2 separate regions of the Homo sapiens genome follow, and region 2 is linked to region 1. Evidence: fine-mapped expression QTL. A gene starts in region 1. The other region holds a variant in brackets. All regions are shown on one strand. Distances are from middle to middle.

Evidence for each region.
Region 2: its variant is fine-mapped to the expression of NSA2 in whole blood (INTERVAL, PIP above 0.99).

What each region holds. Positions count from the first base shown.
Region 1 is chr5:74,760,609-74,772,192 of GRCh38, reverse strand. It overlaps NSA2 (NSA2 ribosome biogenesis factor), which reads right to left and starts at 4,944. Exons shown (of 6, transcript NM_014886.6): 1 at 4,830-4,944; 2 at 3,075-3,262; 3 at 2,829-2,979; 4 at 1,383-1,562. The coding sequence starts at 4,832. It overlaps GFM2 (GTP dependent ribosome recycling factor mitochondrial 2), which reads left to right and starts at 5,076. Exons shown (of 21, transcript NM_032380.5): 1 at 5,076-5,255; 2 at 8,427-8,513; 3 at 11,207-11,291. The coding sequence starts at 8,451. RefSeq lists an enhancer at 4,924-5,363.
Region 2 is chr5:74,820,354-74,831,937 of GRCh38, reverse strand. All of the region lies in intron 5 of FAM169A (family with sequence similarity 169 member A), which reads left to right. Among named protein-coding and RNA genes, the nearest start is that of FAM169A-AS1, 40 kb to the left of the region's middle. The variant C/T (reference allele first, on the strand shown) is at 6,117.

The sequences.
Region 1 (11,584 bases):
AGATCGTGCCACTGCACTCCCGCCTGGGATACAGAGGGAGACTCCGTCCCAAAAAAAAAAAAAAAAAATTACTCAGGTTGAACACTAGGATTATGGCATGTTGCAACTTTCCTCTCTCTGATACTTTGTTTTTTTGAGGCTGTGTATCTAACTGGGAGAATAGTTCAGTCTCTTTGAAGGGATTTTGCAAAAATATATCTTCAACTATGTTTCTCCCCAGGGGTGGGGAAGTTTGGGGTCACATTACTATTGCTGCCTTCAACAGAAATTAAGCTATATTAAATTATCTTCCTTTTTTCAAAGATTTTCTTTTTCTTTTTTTCTTTTTTTTTTTTTTTTGAGACAGAATCTTGCTCTGTCCCCCAGGCTGGAGTGCAGTGGCATGATCTCCACTCACTGCAAGCTCTGCCTCCCAGATTCACGCCATTCTCCTGCCTCAGCCTCCCAGGCAGCTGGGACTACAGGCGCCCGCCACCATGCCCGGCTAATTTCTTGTATTTTTTTTTTTTAGTAGAGATGGGGTTTCACAGTGTTAGCCAGGATGGTCTTGATCACCTGACCTCGTGATCTGCCTGCATCGGCCTCCCAAAGTGCTGGGATTACAGGCGTGAGCCACCGCGCCCGGCTTTTCAATGATTTTCAAAAGCATTTAGATACTTTCCTTATCAAACTGGAATTGACTCTTATAAAACAGTCCTACTCAAGTTTTCGAACTGCTGTCAAAGACAAGAAGTGTTTTGAGACCTAGACAATATCAGGCATATTGTAGATCACTAGTTTAATGAGGAAAATATGACTGTGGAAAATGAAGATTCTAATATGTCATGTTTAAAAGTCAGAATTCACTGACAATGTCTTATGATACTACTTTTTCAAATCTCTCACGAAGCTGAAAAGATTTTTTTTTTTTTTGAGACGGATTTTTGCTCTTCTTGCCCAGGCTGGAGTGCAATGGCGTGATCTCAGCTCACTGCAACCTCCGCCTCCCAGGTTCAAGCGATTCTCCTGCCTCAGCCTCCCTAGTAGCTGGGATTACAGGCGCCCGCCACCACGCCCAGCTTATTTTTTGTATTTTTTAGTACAGATAGGGTTTCACTACATTGGCCAGGCTGGTCTTGAACTCCTAACTTCAGGTGATCCACCCACCTCAACCTCCCAAAGTGCTGGGATTACAGGTGTGAGCCACCGCACTGGGCTAAAGATTTTTGACTAGTGGAAAAAGTACTAAATAACTTCTGTCAATAAAATAACAAAAATTGCATAAAAATATCTTTCAACCTGTTCCACATCAATTTAAAGAATTTCAGGAAATGATAATGTTCTTTATCCGATTTAATAAAGTCAACTAACATTTCGGTCATTACACTCTTCCAAGGACTTACCATTGGCCTGATGAATCTTTCATATTTAGGTGGTTTTCTTGTAAAGCCATCTCCAACAAAGCACACTTTAGTAACCATTCTCTTCCATGCCTTCTTCTTTCTCTTTCCTGTTCGAATAACTTTTAATACTTCTGTTTCTCCCTGGGCACGTACTTTAGGCAGAGGGACTTCCCATTTTCCCTAAAAATATGCCACAGTTAAAAGTTTATATTGTTATTAAAGGACAATGAGAATAAGTCAAATATGTTTTAGTTGTACAAAGTAATAGATCTATTTTTTTTGCTTGACCATCAACACATTTTTGGCTCAACCGTCTTCTAGAGGTCTGTATTGTCTCATAAGCTGCAAATTAAACAGAACAAGTTTATATATCATGGGTATGTTAAATAAATGGTTGGCTTAAGCTAAAAATCTTAATGCTGTGTTATGGGTGAGAAAATACCACCTGTAATGTGGTGGTTTTTTTTTTTTTTTTTTTTAGATGGAGTCTCGCTCTGTTGCTCAGGCTGGAGTGCAGTGGTACAATCTTGGCTCACTGTGCAGCCTCCGCCTCCTGGGTACAAGCAATTCTCCTGTCTTAGCCTCCCGAGTAGCTGGGACTACAGACACACACCACCACACCCAGCTAATTTTTGTATTTTTAGTAGAGGTGGGGTTTCACCACATTGGTCAGGCTGGTCTTGAACTCCTGACCTCAGGTGATCCACCTGCCTTGGCTTCCCAAAGTGCTGGGATTACAGGCGTGAGTCACGGTGCCCAGCCGATAGTGACTTCTATAAGCAGTATATGTGTTTACTAATGTTTAATAGCATAATACTGGAAGAGTGTTTCCACCTCTTAATATGTCTCTGTATTTCTTCCCGAGATGGATCTGTAGATCACTAGCAAGACAAAATCCTCACCAGATGTTTTATGCCTCCCTTGAGTGCAAATTCTATGAAAAAACTGAAATAGTGTAAGGCAGTAAAAATAATTCTTTAAATATAAATACTGCATATTCTTTTATCTGGATTTCTGCTAATCTATTTACAGGTGTTTTAAAAAGCCACATTTTTTGTGACAACTCAGGGAGTTTTCCACCATTCTACTTTTTAACCAAGTTTGGCACTACAGGGCAGCACAAATAAGAAGCATTTGTATTTTTCTTTATGACTGCATAGCACTGTGGGTTTTCAAACAGGAAGACAAATATTGAATTTGAAATTCACTCCTTACCAGCTTTTTAATTTCATATGGCATTCTAATAAATTTTTTTTATAACTTAAATTTTAAAACCTTATGATGAGAAAGCAAGTTTTTTATTAAATTTACAAAGACTTCAACATCTAAATAATGGGAATAATAGCTGTACTTCATGTTTGAAATTAAACCGAGAAACAAGAACCTCAAATTTGAATTTAAGTAATTCTCCTAAACAAAACAAAGACTTCAATTGTTATTGCTTACCGCCTTCTCTTTTCTTTTCTGTTTAATCATATTGGAAAGTACTTTAGCTCGAGATTGTCCCTCTCTGTCCAGCAGATAGGCAGGTACTGCTCCCTGTGGTGTCTTTTCATCATTCTTTTGTTTGGTGTTTCTCTTTTCATGCATCTTGATACTACCAAGAAGGAAAAAAGATTCAAGATTATCTGTTTTAATAATGATTACTCAAAAGATGTTAACTTGTTATGACAAATAAATGAGACCACTTACGTCTTTTTCATTTGTATTTTCTCAGCATGACGCTGTTTATGGTAAAGCTTAGCCTTCAGACCAATCATTTTCTTTGCCTTCTTTGAACGTTCATGAGCCTCTCGACTTTCCTTCTTTCTCTTTTTCTCATGGTAATCCAAACGGTATCCATAGCGTTTACGGTGTAATTCAATATATTCATTCTGTGGCTATAATGATGGAAGAAATATTATTTTAATTTTTTAAAGTACTGACAATTATTCTAAAATGCTTTCTTTTACACAGCACAAAGACCCTGTTTCATCCAAATGTTCACTTACTTAAATGATTCTTGCACCATTAAGTTTATTCACATGATGTAAGTTAAATTTTGGTCTTGAATGATATGAGGCATCAGGGCTTACATCTCTAATAATCTCATTAGGGAATGGTCCAAAATCTACTGGACCACAAAAGGGATGAACTGATTACAGTATCTTTTTTCCTTGACATAATTTGCTTTTTTAATAACACCTTCATTTCACATTTAAAAAATTTAAGTCAGTTTTATTGAAGCATAATTTACACACAGTAAAACCTGTCCTTTTTAGGTATACAGTTCTAAGTTTTTCCTAACTACACAGTTCTGTAACCACCACAATCAAAATACAAAGAATTTCCATTTCCCCCTAAAATTCCCTATGTAACTTTTAAGTCAATCCTCTTTCCCAACCCTCAGTTTGATACCTATCCCTACAGTTTTGCCTTTCCCAGAATGAAACAGGGATCAACAGTAGTACATAGCCTTTTGAATCTGGTTTCTTGCTTTTGGGATTCACCCAATTTGCTGCAGGTATAGGAACTTCAATCCTTTTTATTGTTGAGTAGTATGCTATTGTATGGATACACCACTGTTTACCCGCTGACCAGATGATAGGTATCAGGGTTGTTCCCAGTTTTGGGTGATTACGAATAAATCTGCAATAAACAACTGCATGCAAGTCTTCATGTGGACGTGTGTTTACTGCCAGACCGTTTTCCAAAAGTGCATTATTTTTCTTTTCACCAGCAATGTATGGGATGCTTTTTGCATTTTAGACACGTTTTAAACACGCGGCCAGGCGTGAGTCTATTCGTATTTTAAGGCTGCAAAAATAAAAATGATACAAAGCCAAGTCCAGCACAGAGAGCAATGTTAAGTAACAACCAACAAGGTGTGCTGCTACCAACTGCTATCACATAAACTTTGCAGCAATCACATGAAGGGTGTATGGAATGCCATTTTGCAAAGAAACGCAGATTATAGAGACGTAACACAAAGAGAAAGGACCTGGCAGTTAGATCTGGGCCGTTAAGCCCGGCTTCGCAATTCATTAGCTGTCTGGTCTTTGGCAAGGACGCCTTCAGTTTCCTCAGCAGTAAAATGAAGGGGGCGGGACTGACATCTAAGACTGTACAAGGGACAACCATATTCCCATTAGGCTCTGGGGCTGATAACCACGCTTGTGGTGAAATCAGGAATTTTTAGGACTCTTAGCGGTGGATCAAAAAGAAAAAAGAAAACAGGACAGAGTAAAATCTTGCTCCAAAGCTTGTGTTCTGGCAAATACCGTCTGTGTCTCGAATGTGAAGTTGTTTCCACTCCTCAGAGCCCACCCCACGGGTCTACCATCCTTTTCTCTTGGCAGTTCTCATTTCCGCCTACCACCGCTCACCCCCTACCCCAGCGCCCCAGAGTCCTCAGGTCCCACTAACTCAGACGCTGTGTGTCGCGAGCGTCCGAGGCATCCTCCTTACCATGGTGACGGCCGCAGAGCCGCCAGGAGCAGCCGCTGGAGTGCGAAAACGCTCTCAATTTTCGGGTCTCAAAGACCCACAAGCCCACACCACGCAGGCCGGGACAGGAAAGAGTCACCCTTTAAAACGGCCGAGTGAAGAGCAAGAACCACGCAGCGGTTCCGAGCCTCTGTTTTCCGCTTTTAGCTAGGAGGACGGAAGTTGCTGGCAGGCGGCATTTGGCCGGTACACCGCCGGAAGTGTGGAGGTGTGGCTGCCCGAGGCGGTAGAGCGGAGAAAGCCTATTTTCTTTTCGTTTAGATACATTGCCTTTTGCCTAGGCTGGCGTCGAGACTTGAGGCCGTTGCAGACTTTGGCGCGGCTCGCGCCTCCTGCTTCAAGAGCCCAGCGGTGAGAGCTGGCCTGCGGCACGCGGCCTAATGCCAGGTGAGTACTGCTCCGAGCTGTGAGACATCGCGCGCCTGTGACCCTGTCACAGCGCTGGGTACCGCTGACCTTTCAGGCTGCGACGGACACAGCCAGCCACGGAAGAGGACAACAGGGCCTCCGGACTCCCCTCGGTGTTCGCTCAGTATGGAAGTTTTTCTCTATCATTCGGCGAAGTCGACTCATCTTTGTTCCGGTCACTCTGTGTAATGTGTGCATGATTGTGAAGGATACTGAGGAATGAAAACTTAGTGTACAGAAAAATGGAACTACTGGGGCTTTGCAGCTGTTAGAAAAGAAGAAGATAACATTCTGGTTTTTTGGAGGTACAGGACTGATTCCAGAAATTTCTGAGGCATTTTGGTGCACCGAATCAAATGCTGAGTGGACTTGTATTTAGTGGCCCCCTAGTGTCAAGAAGTAATTAACTACCAGAAAGTACGTCTACTTAAATACACTATCAGGTTTACCCTTTTACTGCACAGTTGCAGAAGTTCCCTTAATTACTTCACAGCTTGCAGCGTGATTCAGTTGATGAACAAAAAGAACTGTACCAAAAGAATACTTTCATTAATTCTTAGTGCTTGTATTTGAGGCAGTATTTTGTTTTTGTTTTTGTTTTTATGGGTATTTTGAGACGGCATCTCGCCCAGTCGCCCAGGCTGGAGTGCAGGGGCACGAGCTCGGCTCACCGCAGCCTCGACCTCCCGGGATCAAGCGATCCTCCGACCTCAGCCTCAAAAGTAGCGAGCTACAGGCTCGCGCCACGAAGCCTGGCTGATTTTTGTAGTTTTTGTAGAGATGAGGTTTCACCGTGTTGCCCAGGCTGGTCTCGAACTCCCGGGTACGAGCGATCCACCCGCCTCGGCCTCCCAAAGTGTTGGGATTACAGGCTTGAGCCACAGCGCCCGGCTTTGAGGCAGTTTTTGTTTTGTTTTGAGACGGAGTTTCAATCTTGTCGCACAGGCTGGAGTGCAAATGCGCCATCTCGTCTCACTGCAACCTCTGCCTCCCGGGTTCAAGCGATTCTCCAGGTTCAGCCTCCCAAGTAGCTGGAATTATAGGCGCTCGCCACCACACCCAGCTAATATTTTTGTATTTTTAGTAGAGATGGGGTTTCACCATGTTGGTCGGGCTGGTTTCGAACTCCTGACTTCAGGTGATCCACCTGCCTCGGCCTCCCAAAGTGCTGGAATTACAGGCGTGAGCCACCGAGCCCCGCCTTTGAAGCAGTTTTTTAAGGCTCCATTTTCTAAGGTGATCTCATCATTCTCTTTAAAACCAGAAATAGTAACTAGCATTTGTATATTTTAGGTACAGTACGTTATATAATCTCTTTGCCTTTAATGCGCCCCTCCCCGCCGTCCCTCAATCCCCCGAATTTCCTCCCTCATCTACTTCAGGTCTTTGCTTAAATGTCACTGTTTGAATGAGGCCTTCCTTGATCTCTTTACTTACAGTTCTAACTGTCCCAATTCCTCCTTCCTGCTTCATTCTTCTCTACAGCACCCTATCATCATGGGAGAGACTATGTATTGTATTCGTTACTTTTGTTTGTTGTCTGTATCCCCTGACTACGGTAGAGGCAGTATGAGGGCAGAGATTGTTGTCTTTTGTTCACTGCATTAACGCTGATATCTAGAAAGCAGTGGGTAGGCAGACACACAGTAAATTCTTGTTGAATAAATGGGAACGAATAGGCTTGGGCGGGGGAGGGCTGGGTTGTGCAAATTATCTTTTTATTGACAACCACTGAGTTAAAGAAGAGGAAAATGTCTATTACAGTCACAACTGTGGAGAGACTATGAGGCCCTGAACTTTGGCGTTACCAATGAAAAGGGAATGGATTCAAGGCCAGGCATGGTGGCTCACGCCTGTAATCCCAGCACTTTGGGAGGCCGAGGTGGGTAGATCACTTGAGGTCAGGAGTTCACGACCAGTCTGGCTAACATGGCGAAACCCCGTCTCTACTAAAAATACAAAAAGTAGCCAAGTGTGGTGGCACATGCCTGTAGTTCCAGCTACTCGGGAGGCTGAGGCAGGAGAATCGCTTGAACCCAGGAGGCAGAGGTTGCAGGGAGCTGAGATCAAGCCACTGCACTCCAGGCTTGGTGACAGGGCAAGACCCTGTCTCAAAAAAAAAAAAAAAAAAAAAAAAACAACAAAGGGAACAGATTCAAATATATTTAGGAAATCAAATGTAAGTATTAGATGACTTTCTAAATAAGAGTAGTGAATGTTTCTTAGCTAAGATCCAGAAAGAACAGACTTAGGAGTAGTAATGAGGTTTCACATATCTTAATAACATGGATCACAATGGTTTAACACAGGGGTGTCTAATCTTTTGGTTTCCCTGGGCCACACTGGAAGAATTGTCTTTGGCCACACATAAAATCACTAATGATAACTAACAATAGCTGATGAGCTAAAAAAAAATAAAAAAAACCTCATAATATTTTAAGAAAGTTTACGAATTTATGTTGGGCTGCATATAAAGATATCGTGGGCCGCATGTGGCCTGCAGGCCACGGGTTGGACAAGCTTGGTTTAACATGGTCTGTCTGTCTCCCCAGCATCCCCAGTCTCAGCTGCGTCCTTATATTTCTAATAGCTTTGATATTGTACTTGAAACATAGTGAATATTTAGCAAATGTTTTTAAACTAAAGATGCTTAGTTTCTATAATCAGAGAGGAAGAGGACTTGCTTTTATATATTTTTTACATGATTTAGTTTTTACATGGTATGGTAGGAAAATCAGAGTATACAAATGAATCAATAAATTTTACTGCCAATTAGAAATTACCAAGTTAATATGTGGATGCTTAGCTTTTTATGCTTAATTCTATACATTTACATAACAATGCATTTTGGTTGATACAATGTTTTGTAATTTCAATAAGTTGATTTCTACTGTATCGCCATATCTTTCTTTAAACATTACATTGACAAATAAGGGACATTTTAAACCTAAAAACCATATTTCTCATATTTAATCAGAATTTTCCATTTTCTGAATGATGCATTGAATTTTTGGTAGCTAAAAATATTGTTCCAACTTTTTAAAAGTAATACATTTTACCATACATATTACATATGTCTAACTTACATATGCCTTGCTGACATGTAATACATAAGTTTAGTTTTTTGATTTTGTATATTTATTTTTTCAGACAGTAACAGTTTGGAGGATCAAGATGTTGACCAACTTGAGGATATTTGCAATGAGTCATCAGACAATACCCAGTGTGTATATTAATGTAAGCATTTCTTATAAAATTAAGTGTCCTTTAACAACCTCAGCTCCTTTACTGCCTAAAATGCCCAGTATATCTCATCAGCTGTTGATTCCAAATTTAGTTGAGTCATAACCTTTGGAAATCTTCAAGCTAAACTAATTTGAAAGTAATTACCTTAATTTATTAAGAAATATAAGAGGAAATTACCTTAATTTAAAAGTAAAAGAACAGCTGTAGCTAAATACTGGTCTCATGGAGTACTAAAATGCCAGTTGTTTTTGAAGGAGGGGTAGGGTTTTATATCTAAGAATGTCATCACTTAATGCACATCTTTAAACTACTAACAAATAATGTGCTTTGTAATATTAAGTATCCATGGATTGAGACTCTTATGAAATAAAGTTTCTGTTAATATCAAAGTACAACATAATTATACAATGGTTGATACAACTACTTTTGGCTGTCTTCTGCAGAGCTGTTGGAAGCCAGCTTCTTCGGCAGTCTGATATTTGTCTCAGGAACATTGTTTTAGTCTTTAGCTCTGGTCTGACTCCTGAATCCTCTTCAAAACACTATAAATTATTTTCTAAACTATCACATCTTCAGTATACTTAAAGATATTAAATCTCAAACATAATAATACCCTTTTTATCTATAGCTAAGTGAGAGATTACTTTAAAGCTTGTTTGGGTTGTTTCTTTTTATCTTCAGTGACTTAACAGGGAGTACAATAGTTTCCCCTTATTCATGGTTTTGCTGTTTAGCTGTTTCAGTTGCTCAGAGTCAACTGTGGTCTGAAAATTAAATGGGAAATTCCAGAAATAATTCATAAGTTTTAAATTGTGTGCCATTCTGAGTACTGTGATGAAATCTCATGCCATCCCACTTAATCCCACCTGGGAGGTGAGTCATTCCTTTGCCCAGCATATCCACATTGTATACACTCCCCACCCATGAGTCAGTAGCCATCTGGGTTATCAGATTCACTGTTGTGATACTGCAGTGCTTGTGTTCAAGTAACCTTTATTTTACTTAATCACGGTCCCAGAGCGCAAGAGTAGTGATGCTGGCAATTTGGATGTGCCAAAGAGAAGCCATAAAGTGCTCCCTTTAAGTGAAAAGGTGAACATTCTTGGCTTAATAAGGAAAAAAACAAATCATATGCTGAGGTTGCTAAGATCTATGGTAGGAATGAATCTTCTATCCATGAAATTGTGAAGAAAGAAAAAGACATTTTTGCTAGTTTTACTGTTGCACTTCAAACTACAAAAATTATGGTCACATAACATGATAAGAGCTCAGTTAAGATGGAAAAGGTATTCAGTTTGTGGGCAGAAGACATGAACAGAACCATGTTCTGATTGATAGTAATTAGGTTCTGTACTATCTGAGGTTTCAGGAATCCACTGGGGGTCTTGGAATATAACCCCTGTGGATAGGGTGTGACTGCTGTATGGGAGAACCTGTAACCCTTAAGAAGCCTTACCATTCGTCTACAGTTTTTTTGTTGTTGTTGCTAAGAAGCCTTACCATTCATCTACAATTTTTTTTTGCTACTTTAAAAATCACCTGAGCAGCATTTTGAAGAAGATATATTTCTGTATTCCATTTGTGATCTCATTAAGTGGCCCAAGGAGTTACCCAGTTTTTCTTCAGTGCTTTTATTGCTGACGCTTTCAGACTATGCACGCTGTGATAGACACTGGGTCTTATCCTAGTCATTATGCAGTGGAATTATTTTCTGAGGATAGTAGCTTATTATTGCCAGAAACTTGGTAACTAATGTAGAAATAATATAGATCGCACAGATACGCAGTTCATGAAACAAAAAGCAGATTGTGGTGGCCCTAAATCATTACATACACTAACAATTCCAACTACATTGGCAGCTATTAAATGTATATCTAGTGGTCTGGGCATAAACTGAGGTGGAGAATATTCAGCCTTTACATGAGAACATGAGAAGGTTAGGTAAGCAGCTAAGGTAGAGGAGGTAGGCTTGGCCTTAAGCAGACCTGCTCTAACTCAGTGATTCTCAGTTGAATGCTACATTGGAGACACCCTGGGAATTTTTTTTAAATGCCACTGCCCAGTTCCTCCAGTTCTCATTTTCTCTCCCCACCCCCGTGTCTTCAAGAAGCTTTCCAGATGATTCTAATGTGTAACTGTAATAAATCCTGAAAACAACTAATGGTTTTAGAGTTCATTGCCCCCTACAGACCTTTCAGCAGATGTAGAGGAAAACCAAGGTGTATCCTGGGTGAGATACCTTATTTAACCTTTCTGACTCAGCTTCTGACTTTCAGAACTTTAGGGTTGTGGTTCTCAATCTGTAGCTATTAGAATCAACTGGAGAGCTAGTTTAAACAGATTGTTTGGCTCCATCCCCAAGAGTTTCTGATTCTCTTGTCTGGATTGGAGCCTAAGCATGTTTTTCAAACAAGCCCTCAGCCCATGCTAATGCTGCAGGTTGAGGAAAACCATTGTTTTAAGGTCAGCTCAAAATAGCAAATCAGTATTAATTTTATCCTTATTCTTTCCCCTAGGATATATTTGGATTGTCACTTTTTAAAAGAATTGGAGTTAATAAATTAGGACTACTTTAAAGCTATACAAAATATTTTATCTTCTGACAAAGCGTAATTACAATATTAACACTGTAATAAGTGATGCTAAAATAAAATTAATGCCAAGTTTCTTTTTCTCTTTACTAGAATATATGCTGCTATAAAATAAGAGCAAGTTTAAAAAGATTAAAGCCACATGTGCCGCTTGGAAGAAATTGCAGTTCTCTACCAGGTACAAATGTTAGAGTCTTCTAATTTTATCTAAGCTGTTTGCTTTATCTCTTTTCTCTCTCTTGTTTGCAAGAATCTCCCTTATTAGGGCTCTGTAACCATTTTTTACTTCTTGGCTATTTCCTTGAGATTATTAGGGGCGGGAGTGTTCAGATAGGTGCCAGAAGGAAATACTAGTAGAGTTGTGCTCCTTATCTGAGGAACACGCTGATGAACTGAGCAAAGGAAAGGTTGGTGGCTTTAGTAGCTAGTTTGCAAGTTTAACATGTGAGTGTAATTGTAGAGTGCTCTTGT
Region 2 (11,584 bases), 60 kb before region 1:
TTGAAAAAGAACATTGAGTGAGATTGAAGGTATTGTTACTGATTTCAAGTCATGGTTAATTCTTGAGATCTGTCCGTGTCTCATAATGTTTTTAGTTATGATGGCTGGTTCAAATCTGTGCTTAAGCTCTAGGGAGGAAGCAGAACAAAGCAAAATGATTTATAACTTGACGTATACCACACTCCTCACAAGTCGAGGACAGTGAAAGGATTCATAAGAAATTTGAAAATACACAGATTGAATATCTCTAATCTGAAAATTTGAAATCCAAAATGCTCCAAAATTTGAAACATTCTGAGCGCCAACAAGACCCTCAAAGGAAATGCTTGTTGGGGCATTTCAGATTTTGGATGTTTGGATTAGGGTTGCCCAACAAGAAAGGAAAATGCAAATATTCCAACATTCCCCCCAAAATCTGAAATCCAGTCACTTCTGGTTCTCAGCATTTTGGGTAAGGGTTATTCAATCTGTACCTTAGTTACTCTCTATTCTTTTTCATTTGCATACCTCAAGACTGCTGATGAGTTTGAGTTTGAAGAAATTATTAATGAAATAATTGGGACAGCTTTTTCAGACAAGTCAATCTATTCTTTAGAAACTTCGCTATTTAGTCTACTGTACAACTCAGAAATTATCGTAAGACAAAATCAAGCATTAGTATCAAAGAGATTTTGGGTTTTGTTATAGTATTGCTATTAACTTGTAAGTTGTGTAGCAGTCTTTTTTTGGCTTTTACTTTTCTCCTTTAAATAAGGGAATTAGGCTTGACCACAGATGATCGTTGAGACTTCTTTTGGCTCTAAAGTTTTCTGAATTCTGTGGTTAGAAGTGGGGACTGTCTGTGGGCAGAAATCCTTGGTCTCAGGTCTGGCTTTCAAAAGAAAAGTTGAATTTAAGAGAAAGGTTGTTAAGTTGAAAGACTATGATAGATAGTAAAGGAAGATTTATTTCTTGGAGTCTTGAGAAGAGAAGATTCAATAAGAGTAAATGCAGGTAGTGTTTTGTCATCAAAGCCCCAGTGTATGACCCTGAGACATTATGCTATATAGGAATAAAGATTATTTCTCAATAGGCGAAATTATGAAAATGCAAAACTCTTCAGCTACTCATTTATATATCAATATTTTGGGTCAAATGCTTTTATGATTTATTCTTAGTAGGTTAATTTTCAGACATTATAGTTTCAAGTTTGGGCATTATCTTGTTATTCCTTAAATACAGACTGTAAAAATTATGTATTCCCTGTTTAAAAAAAAATAGATATGTGATGTATAGTCATGGTGACAGGTACATGATCTATAGTGAACTGGGATATATGCAGTTTTTTTGAATAACATTTCTAAGGCTAGGAATTATTTAATGATAGTTCCTAATAGTAAACACCCGTTGCATTGTATTTCTCATAATCTCCTGTGTCTATTGGCACCTTCCCCACAATCCACTGGGATAGTTAGTATTTTTTTCTGTAGTTGTCATTATTGCTTAGTGGGATTAGAGCACATCTTCACAGGATCCATAGTTAACAGTCCCTCTACTTATCAAGTTTGGTTTTCATTATCCTTGTCAGTTTTTTAGGCTTGTAGCAACAGATCATGACTAGTAATAAAAGGTATTTATTGAGCACATCATGTTCGACATTGAAGAGTTATAGTTTACTTCTTTCTTTTCCTATATTATAGGTAGTTTTATAGTAATCTGTAATCTTAAGTCAAGTTGCAAGTTCCCCATCATCAAGGGCTTCTCTTTCCTCTCTTTTTATGTTGTTGTGTGAGGGGGATTCTTATCTAGGTAAATGGAATTATTTAATTTTTCTAATATTGTGCTGTTTACTTTTTCCTAATGACCATTAGATTAACAAAGTTGATACAGTAATTACTTTTGGTAGAACATTCAAAATGCTACCACCTTAGGGAATAAATCATTAAGTGATCTGTATTTTATTCCCCATATTTCTTTTTTTTTGAGATGGAGTCTCACTCTGTCACCAGGCTGGCTGGAGTACAGTGGCACGACCTCGGCTAACTTCAACCTCTGCCTCCTGGGTTCAAGCGATTCTCTTGCCTCAGCCTTCTGAGTAGCTGGGGTTACAGGCACGTGCCATTACGCCCGGCTAATTTTGTATTTTTCATAGAGATGGGGTTTCACCATGTTGGTCAAGCTGGTCTCGATCTCCTGACCTCAGATGATCCACCTGTCTTGGGCTCCCAAAGTGCTGGGATTATAGGCGTGAGTCACCACGCCTGTCGGGCTTCTTGTAAAGGGTCGTTTAATTATTTTTTTGAGCTAGGGTCTTGCTCTGTTGCCCAGGCTGGAGTGCAGTTGCGCAATCATGGCTCACTACAACCTCAACCTCCTAGGCTCAATTGATCCACCTGCCTCAGCCTCTCAAGTATTTTAGTTTTCTATTTAAGGAAGGAAATCTTGCTATTACTTTTCTTTGTACCTGTGTTTATATAACTTAATTCATAAAACACGGGCTTAGCAACAAATAGAGATTAGATCTGTGTCATAGGAAAATGACAAATTATTGCCTATCTTGGACCTGCGTGGTGACTTGCATTCACAAGAAACCATAGATGCTAAATCCACAAATACCTTTATCTTATGGCATGGCACTAAAGACTTAAAGGAAAGCACTTGATGAAAGATAATAGAAAATGTTCATGGTTGCAAAATCAGATATTTTATAGTCGTTCCGTTTGAGTACTTCATGTGTAACAAAAACTTACCTGCAAAAATAGTTTATAAAAGGATGAAAACTGCAGAGAAAGCCTTTTTATGACACAGAAGGGAGCGTAAAAGAAGAAAAAATTGTTCTATACTGAGTTTTACAATAATTGCTATACTAAGTTATGTAATATTTTTAGTTTATTCAGGACACCGTTCAAAATTCATTGACCTCAGGCGTAGAACTTTGTATTCAAAGTCTGTATAAGTCATACATGTACTCTTGCAAACTTTTCTCAGAATTTTGTAGTGAAAATTTGGATGGCATGTTGAGGAGTTTATATTGCTAGTGGTAGGCAGGGTGTGGCTATAGTGCTAATGCTTTGGTTAAAGAGGGTGGGTTGAACACGTGCCTCAGCCTCTACTCTCTCTTGCAAACACCACCAGAATGACACCAAAGACATTTTTAAACAGCATAAATCCCACATGACGAAGTGAGTAAGAGGAGAGTGTAACAGCAACAAAACTTTATAATCTGGGAAAAGGGTAGATTATGTAGTAACTGAATCCTAAGATGCCATTGCCCAAGGCAGGAAGCACCACATTTATATTTTAGAACCTTTAAAAAGTTCAGTCATTATAACACTAGCTACTTCTGGGAGGTGGAGCCTTAGAAAAGGATTGGCTGAAAGTTCCTTCCCTAATGCAGCACAGCTGGACAGTTACCCCAGCCTTGCTCTGGGAAAAGACCTGCTCCTGGGGGCACATGGAGACTTTCAGGTATGGTGGCAACATTTGTGTTAGGGAATAAATTATCTTCCTTCTCCCATTTTACAAAATGAAGGTATATCTTTCATCTAACCTTTATCTTGCTAATCTGGAGTTGTAAAAAGGTCTGGAAGTCCCACTTTAAAAAAAGAAAAAAGAAGGCAGGGAGAGGCCTCTAAATAGTTTTGTAGTAGTGTAAAAGTGACTGGATATAATTAGATGATATTCTTTTGTAAGTCAGGTGGTTTCTATTTGTTTTCAACAAAAATGAAAGAGGATTTGAGTTGTGTTTAATAATGCCAGATTATTAAAGATAATTTTTTATAATAGATCACTGTGTGATATGTGGCACATAACTAAGGACACTTACATTGCTATAACGAAGGGTTTTCTGGTTCCTTCTTATTTGAACAAGGTTCTTAAGCACTTATATCTATAAAAATAAAAAATAGGAATAGGATTAATGCTGAACTTTGTCTCATTCTGGTAGTAAGTAATTCATGAACTCATAAACTAATTAAAAAATGATACACTCCAGGCCAGGCATGGTGGCTCCCTTCTGTAATTCCAGCACTTTGGGAGGCCAAGGTGGGCAGATCACCCGAGGTCAGGAGTTCAAGATGAGCCTAGACGACATGGTGAAACTCCGTCTGTACAAAAAAAAATACAAAAATTAGCCGGGCATGATGGCGGGTTCCTGTAATTCCAGCTACTCAGGAGGCTGAGGTGGGAGAATCGCTTTAACCCGGGAGGTGGAGGTTGCAGTGAACCGAGATTGCACCATTGCACTCCAGCCTGGGTGACAGACACTCCATCTCAAAAAAAAAAAAAAAGATAAGCTCCATCTATTTCATTAACAGTTGTATTTAAAATAATATTTGGTTTTATTTTGCTTAGTAATTAGTTTTCCCGATATATGTGTTTTGATTTGTTGTATACTAATATAATAATTATAATAATTCCAAATTTCTTTTGGATCAATACTTAGAACATTAGGATCACAAGATATTTTTAGAATTTATATACAAATATATTCTTGTAGAGAAAAATGATTGGATAATCAGTAAACTTCCATGCATAAAAATATTACATCAGGATAACATTCTGTGGAATAAATATCATAGAAATATTAGTGCAAGGAGAAGAAGGAGCAGTGTAAAACTGTTAAGGAATAGTTTGTTCAATGGATGGTAACAGTTACCAGATTGATTATAGTTTCTAGAGTCCATTTGATACATATAAAAGAAGGGTGTAATAGTTTTGTTTTTCTTTAAGTCAATGTTATTTATTAACTGCAAAGGGAAAAATGGTAAATTTACACAGAGAAACCTGGCAGGTACCATGTTAACCAACAGATTATGGTTAACATCACTAGTAATAAGACATATCAACATCATGTATCCCATGATATATGATGTACTGAGAAGGGCACAGTATCATTCTGTAGCATTTTTGCCCAAAATTTATGATCTCAGTTCATTCATGAGAAACCATTAGACAAAGCCAAATTAGGAGAGTTATTCTATAAAGTAACTGACAATCAGCCATAGTGTCAAGGTTATGAGTGACAAGGGGAGATGGAGGAATTATCGAAGACCAGAGTTTAGGGATATATTAAACTAAATGCAGGAAGGAATTCTGGATTGGATTCTGAAACAGAAAAGAACATTAGTGGAATAATGTGTGAAATTTGAATAAAGTCTGTAGTTTAGCTAACAGTATTATAGCAATGTTAATTTCCTGGTTTTGATAATAGTATTTTGGCTATATAGGATGTTAACATTAGGGTGAAGGGTATATGGGAGCTCTTTGTAATGTTTTTGTGACTTTTCTATAAGTCTACAATTGTTTTTAAAATAGTTTTTTAAAAGTCAACAATATGTCAGAAATAACATCTTCTGTAATTATTGATTGAAACTTAGATGAAAATTTTTAGATATCACAAGGATGTGTGAATATATGGTATTTCAAAATTATTTTATGGCTACATGAGCAAAAACGTCTCCTTTGAGGAGTTTGACTAGGCCAAAAGAAAAAAGAAACTAAAAATACCAATATAAATGGTTCCCCTAGGAAAGGCTCCAGCCATATCATCCTGCTGTGAGGTCCATTGCCAGCAAGCCCCACCATACACACAGAGCTTCTAATTAGCTTTTTAATATCTCATTCTTAATTATGAACAGATAGTCATAGGTAAGGAAGGCCACTGATGTGAAAAATGGTGATTAAAGCAAAAGAGAGTAAAAGAGATTTGGAGGAGAAGACAATGCAAAAAATGTGGCCCTTAAAATTTTTGGAAAAGTTAGTCATTGCATTTATGAAATAAGAACAAGAATGTTCACAGAGCTCTTAGAAACTAAAACAAATCCAATAGAGTTGGAGGAGGTTGATCAGAAAGGAGTGCAGAAACAACAAAAAACAAACCTAAATGATGGTAAATAGGAAGAGATGATAAAATTAGAGGGATTATTTAAATAATACATGTTTCAGGAGGAGAGAACAAATTGGAGGAGAAAAAATCACCAATAAAATAATTCACTAACATTTCTCAGAACTGTAGAACACACATTTCCAGATTAAAAGGGCCCATTGAGCATCCATCACAATGAATTAAGATACACTCATACCAAGATTATTGTGAAATTTCAGAGCATCTGGAATAGAGAAAAGATTTTGAAAGC[C/T]TCCATAAAGTGAGAGAATGATTTAGACAAAAGATCAAGAATCAAAACGTTACTAGAGTTCTCAACAGCAACATGAATACTAGAAGTGGAATAATGCCTTTAAGATACCAAGGGTAAAGTGATTTCCAGTGTGTTCTGTGCCCCGTCAAATTAATAAAGAGTGAGAGTGAAAGAAGGAAATTTCTAGACTGTCAGTCTTAAAACAATTTACCTTTTATATACCCCTTTTCTGGAAGTGAGTAGAGTTTGTGCTCTCCTAAGATAAAGAAAATCAAGAAGGAAAGATGGGATTAGGAAACTAAGAGAGAAAAGAAAGGAGATCCAACATCACAGCTATGTCAGTTGTGGAGCTGCTCTTTGTTAAAACCACTAGCTTTATGTGGCTGTTGAAGTTAAATTTTAAAATTCAGTTTCTCAGTCATGCTGGCCACATTTTAAGAGCTCAATGGCCACATGTGACTAGTGGCTACTGCATTGGACAGAGTAGATACAGAACTTTTCCATCATTGCAGAATGATCTTTTGGACATTTCTTTTTCTAAAGATTGACTGATCTAGATTGGAGCAGATCACAAAGCTCTGGGACGTTGATTTAAGAAGATAGAGTTCATAGAATACCTGATGTATTTGAATTTATTGGGATAAGATTTACATAGTTACTGGAGACTTTGGAGGATGAGAGAGATAGTAATAAATATTATTAAGGGAAATCAAAAAGTGTAAGAATAAAGATAAAAATAAACATTCATGGTACACTATATGGCTCAGTTGTCAAAAGCATTTATATAGTCATAATGTAAATACTGAAAATTGATCTAACAAATCACAAATTACTATTTAGGGGTGTTGGGGTTTTTTGTATGGGAAGTGTGTTTATGTTGGAGTTGAGATTGGGGTGTGTGAATGTATTTAAGAGCTAAATTCTCACCTTCCAAGTTCTAGCTATCTATGCCTAAAATGGAAAAATGAAGAAATAGAAATCAAGAGGTATAGTAAGTTACTTAGAGAAGTAGAAGTAAATACCGAAAATATCAGCTAAATGACTTCAAAATGGTTGCTTTTGGGGTGTAGAAAGTGTGTTTGTGTGTGTGTATGTGTGTGTGTGTGTGTGTGTATGTGTGTGTATCAGGAAAGTGGTCACAGAGCTGCTTTTTTTTTTTCTTAAGTCTTATATGACTATTGTATTCTAAACAATGTTATGGATGACTTTGATTAAAAACAAGAAGTATACATTTAAAAAAATGAGGCCATGTCCAAAGTGTAATCACTATCTACCACAAAACTAGCTGAACTTTATAAATCCTTCTCAGCCTGGAATGATAAGGACTATCTGTTAAAGGGCTGTGCTAATTAGAAGATTAATGAAAAAGTCTCATACAGTTACTAAAATAATACAAAACAAATCACTGGTTAATTCAGTGGAAGTTTTGTGACTTTTGGCCTATATCAAGAAGTATATAAAGATGCAAATTTGTGTAAATAGCATACCGTATTTTAGTGTAGATAAGCTCAGAGAACACAATTGAGGTCACTATCATTAGTCGCTATTTTTGAAGTACTCATTGTTATTTGGCTTCAACTGTCAATTGCCTTGATCCAATTTGAAGACTTAATATTTTGGGGAAGAACAATCTAGTCAACAACTACTATAAGTCAGTTTAGCCCACTACTGAAGGGATTTGTGACCAATACCAGGAAGTGTATTTCTGGTTTTTGTAATCTTCATTTGAGGTGATTTGTAATGGAAGCATTTTTTCTTGTCCACATTTACTCGTCAGCTTTCCTTGTGGCTTCCAGACCTTTTACTAGGGGCTATATCCATGATCTTCCCTACTTTTTTGGACAGATTACTCACTTCCTGTTCACTAAAATTCAGATTTCTGGGCCTTTTAAGGTTATTTTAAGGAATAACAAACATTGTGATGTAAAATTATAAGGATTGATAGTATAGCTAAAAGTGAAACCCAGCTGAATTTTTTGTTGGGAGAGTGTGATTATATTTTAAGGACTTGAGTCTGTCTAGGTGTGATTCTTGTCTTTGGGAAATGTGCAAAGGCATGTGAGAGTCCCGTACTACTCTGTGGCTACCTGAAATGTATCATTGGGAAACGAGATGGCTGCTTTGTTGAGGTGAAGTTCTAGCTATCTGAAAAACCACTTGCTTGCCAATAAGGGTTCTGTTTATTCGAGAGATAGAGTTGACTTTAGTGGAAACACAAAGATGATTTGTCATGGGTTCAGTTCTCAAAGCACCAAAAATCTAGTGGATGAGACAGTAAAACCCACAACATCATAGTCGATAAGCTGTATTATTAGATAATCAAAATTCAGTTTTGTAAGTAATACATTTGAGGTATCAACAATGGCAGTCTTTGAAAGCAAGTAGTTAACTTTGCCTGGAGGGAGGTGTGACTGGGAAAGTGATATTTAAAAGTAGTTTTGAAGGGTAAGTAGTTTGTCAGTAAGAGAAGGGGGAAGGGAAAGAACATTCTTGGTAAACATGAATGGAATATAAATATATGCAGAAGGCAGAGAGTCATGAAAGTTTAGGGCATATTTGGAACTACATCCTGAATAAGGTGGTGGGACTAACAAGTAGGAGAAGTGAAGATGGAGGTCCCATTGCAAAGGATCTTAATTGTCCTACAAAGAAGTGTGGCATTTTATTGGCCAGGAAGCTATCAAATAATTTTATGTAGAAGTAACATGATTAAATATTTTAGGGACATACTGTTTGGAGCACTTGGAAAATTGTATTTTAAAGTCAGGGAAGTCAATTAAAAGAGCTGTTTTAGTAGTTCAGGTGAATGAAGGACCAGAACTAGGAAAGCACCAGTAGGAGTGGAGAAGGGAACATCTGAGGGAGAGTTTCAGGTGGACAGAGTGTGGTAACTCCATAGTGTGTAGGCGGGGAGTGGAGGAACTAGTGATGAATCTGAATGGCTTTGGCTTGGGTGCTTAGGTATTGGTGGGAGGCTGTTAATTAAGATTGGGAATAGAAGAAGAGGAGTAGTTTGATAATACTTTAGTTCAATTTTGACATGGGCATATGTGTCCCTAAGGCATATGTAAGTAGACATAACATAGAAATGTAAGTTGGAGCACATGGAAGAGGTATGGATATTTATGTGGGCCCCAGAATACTTAAAGTAATTTTACAGCGTGGATGAGATCAGTCAAAACTGTTGTATAAAGTGAGTGTATTTGTGAATATTGGTATGAGGAAATGACACTGAAAACAGCCTAAAGTAACCAAACATTACTGGAGGGAGTATTCTGGCAAAAGGTAGTGTCTCCTGAGATGTGACCACTGATGACCTGAGAGTTAACAAGGAAATGTTGATCTGCTGAGAGATAAGAGGAAAGTTAGCTGAGGCTGCTAGCTGTCCATAAAATATTTGTGGTTCATTTTCTATATTCTAGTCATTGGCCAGAGCTGCCCAGTCAGGGATTCTATTTTCCAGTCACTGTTACAACTACATGGGGCTGTGTGACTAGTTCTTTACAAAATAATGAAAAAGATGATGCCTGTGACTTTGCGTCAAAGTGGTTAAGATGCATTCCTTTTCCTCATCTATACAGAGGACTTTGAAGATGTAAGGGATGAGGAAGCCACAGGATAAAAGGAACTTGGTGGCCCTGGTGGACCACACTTCCCAGTATTTACATCCTTGTGTAGCCTGTTTGAATCTGGGCTGGCCCTATAACTTGCTTTAACCAGGAGAATGCATAACACTGTGCTCAGCCTTAAGAAGGCTGGCAGGTTCCACTTTGGCACTCTTAGAAGCTAGTCACCATGTAAGAAATACAACGACCTGGAGACTACTCTGAGGTGAAGAGACCCCAGCAGCTCCATTGAAGAGAACTGAGGCTCTGGCTGACAAGACCAGCTGTTTCTTCCACCTGCAGCCACTACAGACTGTCCCACTGTAGGAGTGAGGCCATTGGATCTTCTGCCATCCCAGTGCCCTAGCTGATGCCCTATGAGAGTTGTGATAAATAGGAAATAAATTTTAGTTCTAAGCCAATATGTTTTGGGCTGGTTTTTAGGCAGCAGTAGGTAACTGAAACAGTTCCTTCATGATTGTGAGGAGGAAACCATCCACTTCCCAGGAACGTGTAACTGTTAATTTGAACAAAAAAGGAACTTTTATTATGTTAAACATTCCAGGTTTGGTTTGTTACGGCAGCTAGCATTGCCTTAACTAATTTATAGAGCATGAAGACTGTAATGAGAATACCTAGTGGTATATGACAGGTTCGCTCATCTGAGGATAATCTGAATTTCTGAATAATCTGAATCTGATAATCTGAATCTGAAATTCACTTTATGTATGTCTTCAATGGAGACAGTCACACACTGATGGCTTCATGAGGTGTTAAGTTTTAAGGGGAGAGAAGGCATATTCCTGGGTGGACAAAGAATGAATGGTGATTCTATGAGAAGAAGCAGCTGCTCAGTTGTGGCAGAATATCTGTTCTTGAATTCAATACATAGACCTGAATGGTGTCGCTGAAATTTATTCATTTATTAAAAAGTTGATCTTAAGTGCATATAGATAGGGAAAGGGAGGCGGGGGAAGTGTGAGAAAGAGCAAGAGGAAGAAATTGAGAGATAGTCATAGATATTTTATAAGCTCTGTCCTCTTAGAACTTAGATTTTAGAAGGAGACATAGCAATGAATGGACAAGTAGATGATATGCTGTCAGATGATGTGAAGACAACCAAAGTAAATTAAAAGAATAGAACGTGTGGGACAGCAGGTACTATTTTAAACGGAATAGTTAGGGGAAGTCTCTCTGAATGAAGTGATGGAATAGTGAGATCAGGAGAAGAAATTTTCAGGCAAAGAGCTGAAAATGCAGAAGCCCTGAGGCAGAAACAAGTTTGGGATACTTCAGAAATAGTAAGAGCAGTGTGGCCAGAGTATAGTGATTGATATGGATTAGGAGAGAGGCAGGGACTGTATCCTGAAAGGTTTTTTAGGCCAAAGAAAGAATTTGAATTTTTTTCTGCAGGTGATGGGAAACTATTGAAGGGTTTTGGGTATAGGAGTAACATCTGGTTTGTCTTTTAAAAAGGCAAATCTGGCTGCTCTGTGGGAAACTGGGTGCAGGGGTTCTGGGTGCTGCAGAGATGGCAGGGTTGAGTTCAGCTAGCTAAGAGGCTGTTGTAGAAGCCCTGGTGAGAGGTGACAGTAGCTTAGACAAGGGAGATGGGGTAGAGGTGGTAAGAAGTGATCATGTTTGAGATTAGTTATGAAGTGATTCCTGCAGGATTTCTGATGGATTGTACGTGGGCTGTGAAGGAAGAGTCAAACATGAGTTCCTAGAGTGGGCGAGTAGGGGCGAGGTTTACTAAAAAATTGGTAAACTAGGTAGAGTAGGTTTTGGGGCTGTCTGCAAAATCTGGTTATAAATGGTTTATTGGAGTCACTTGTAAGTTGATATTTTGTTTTTACATTTTTA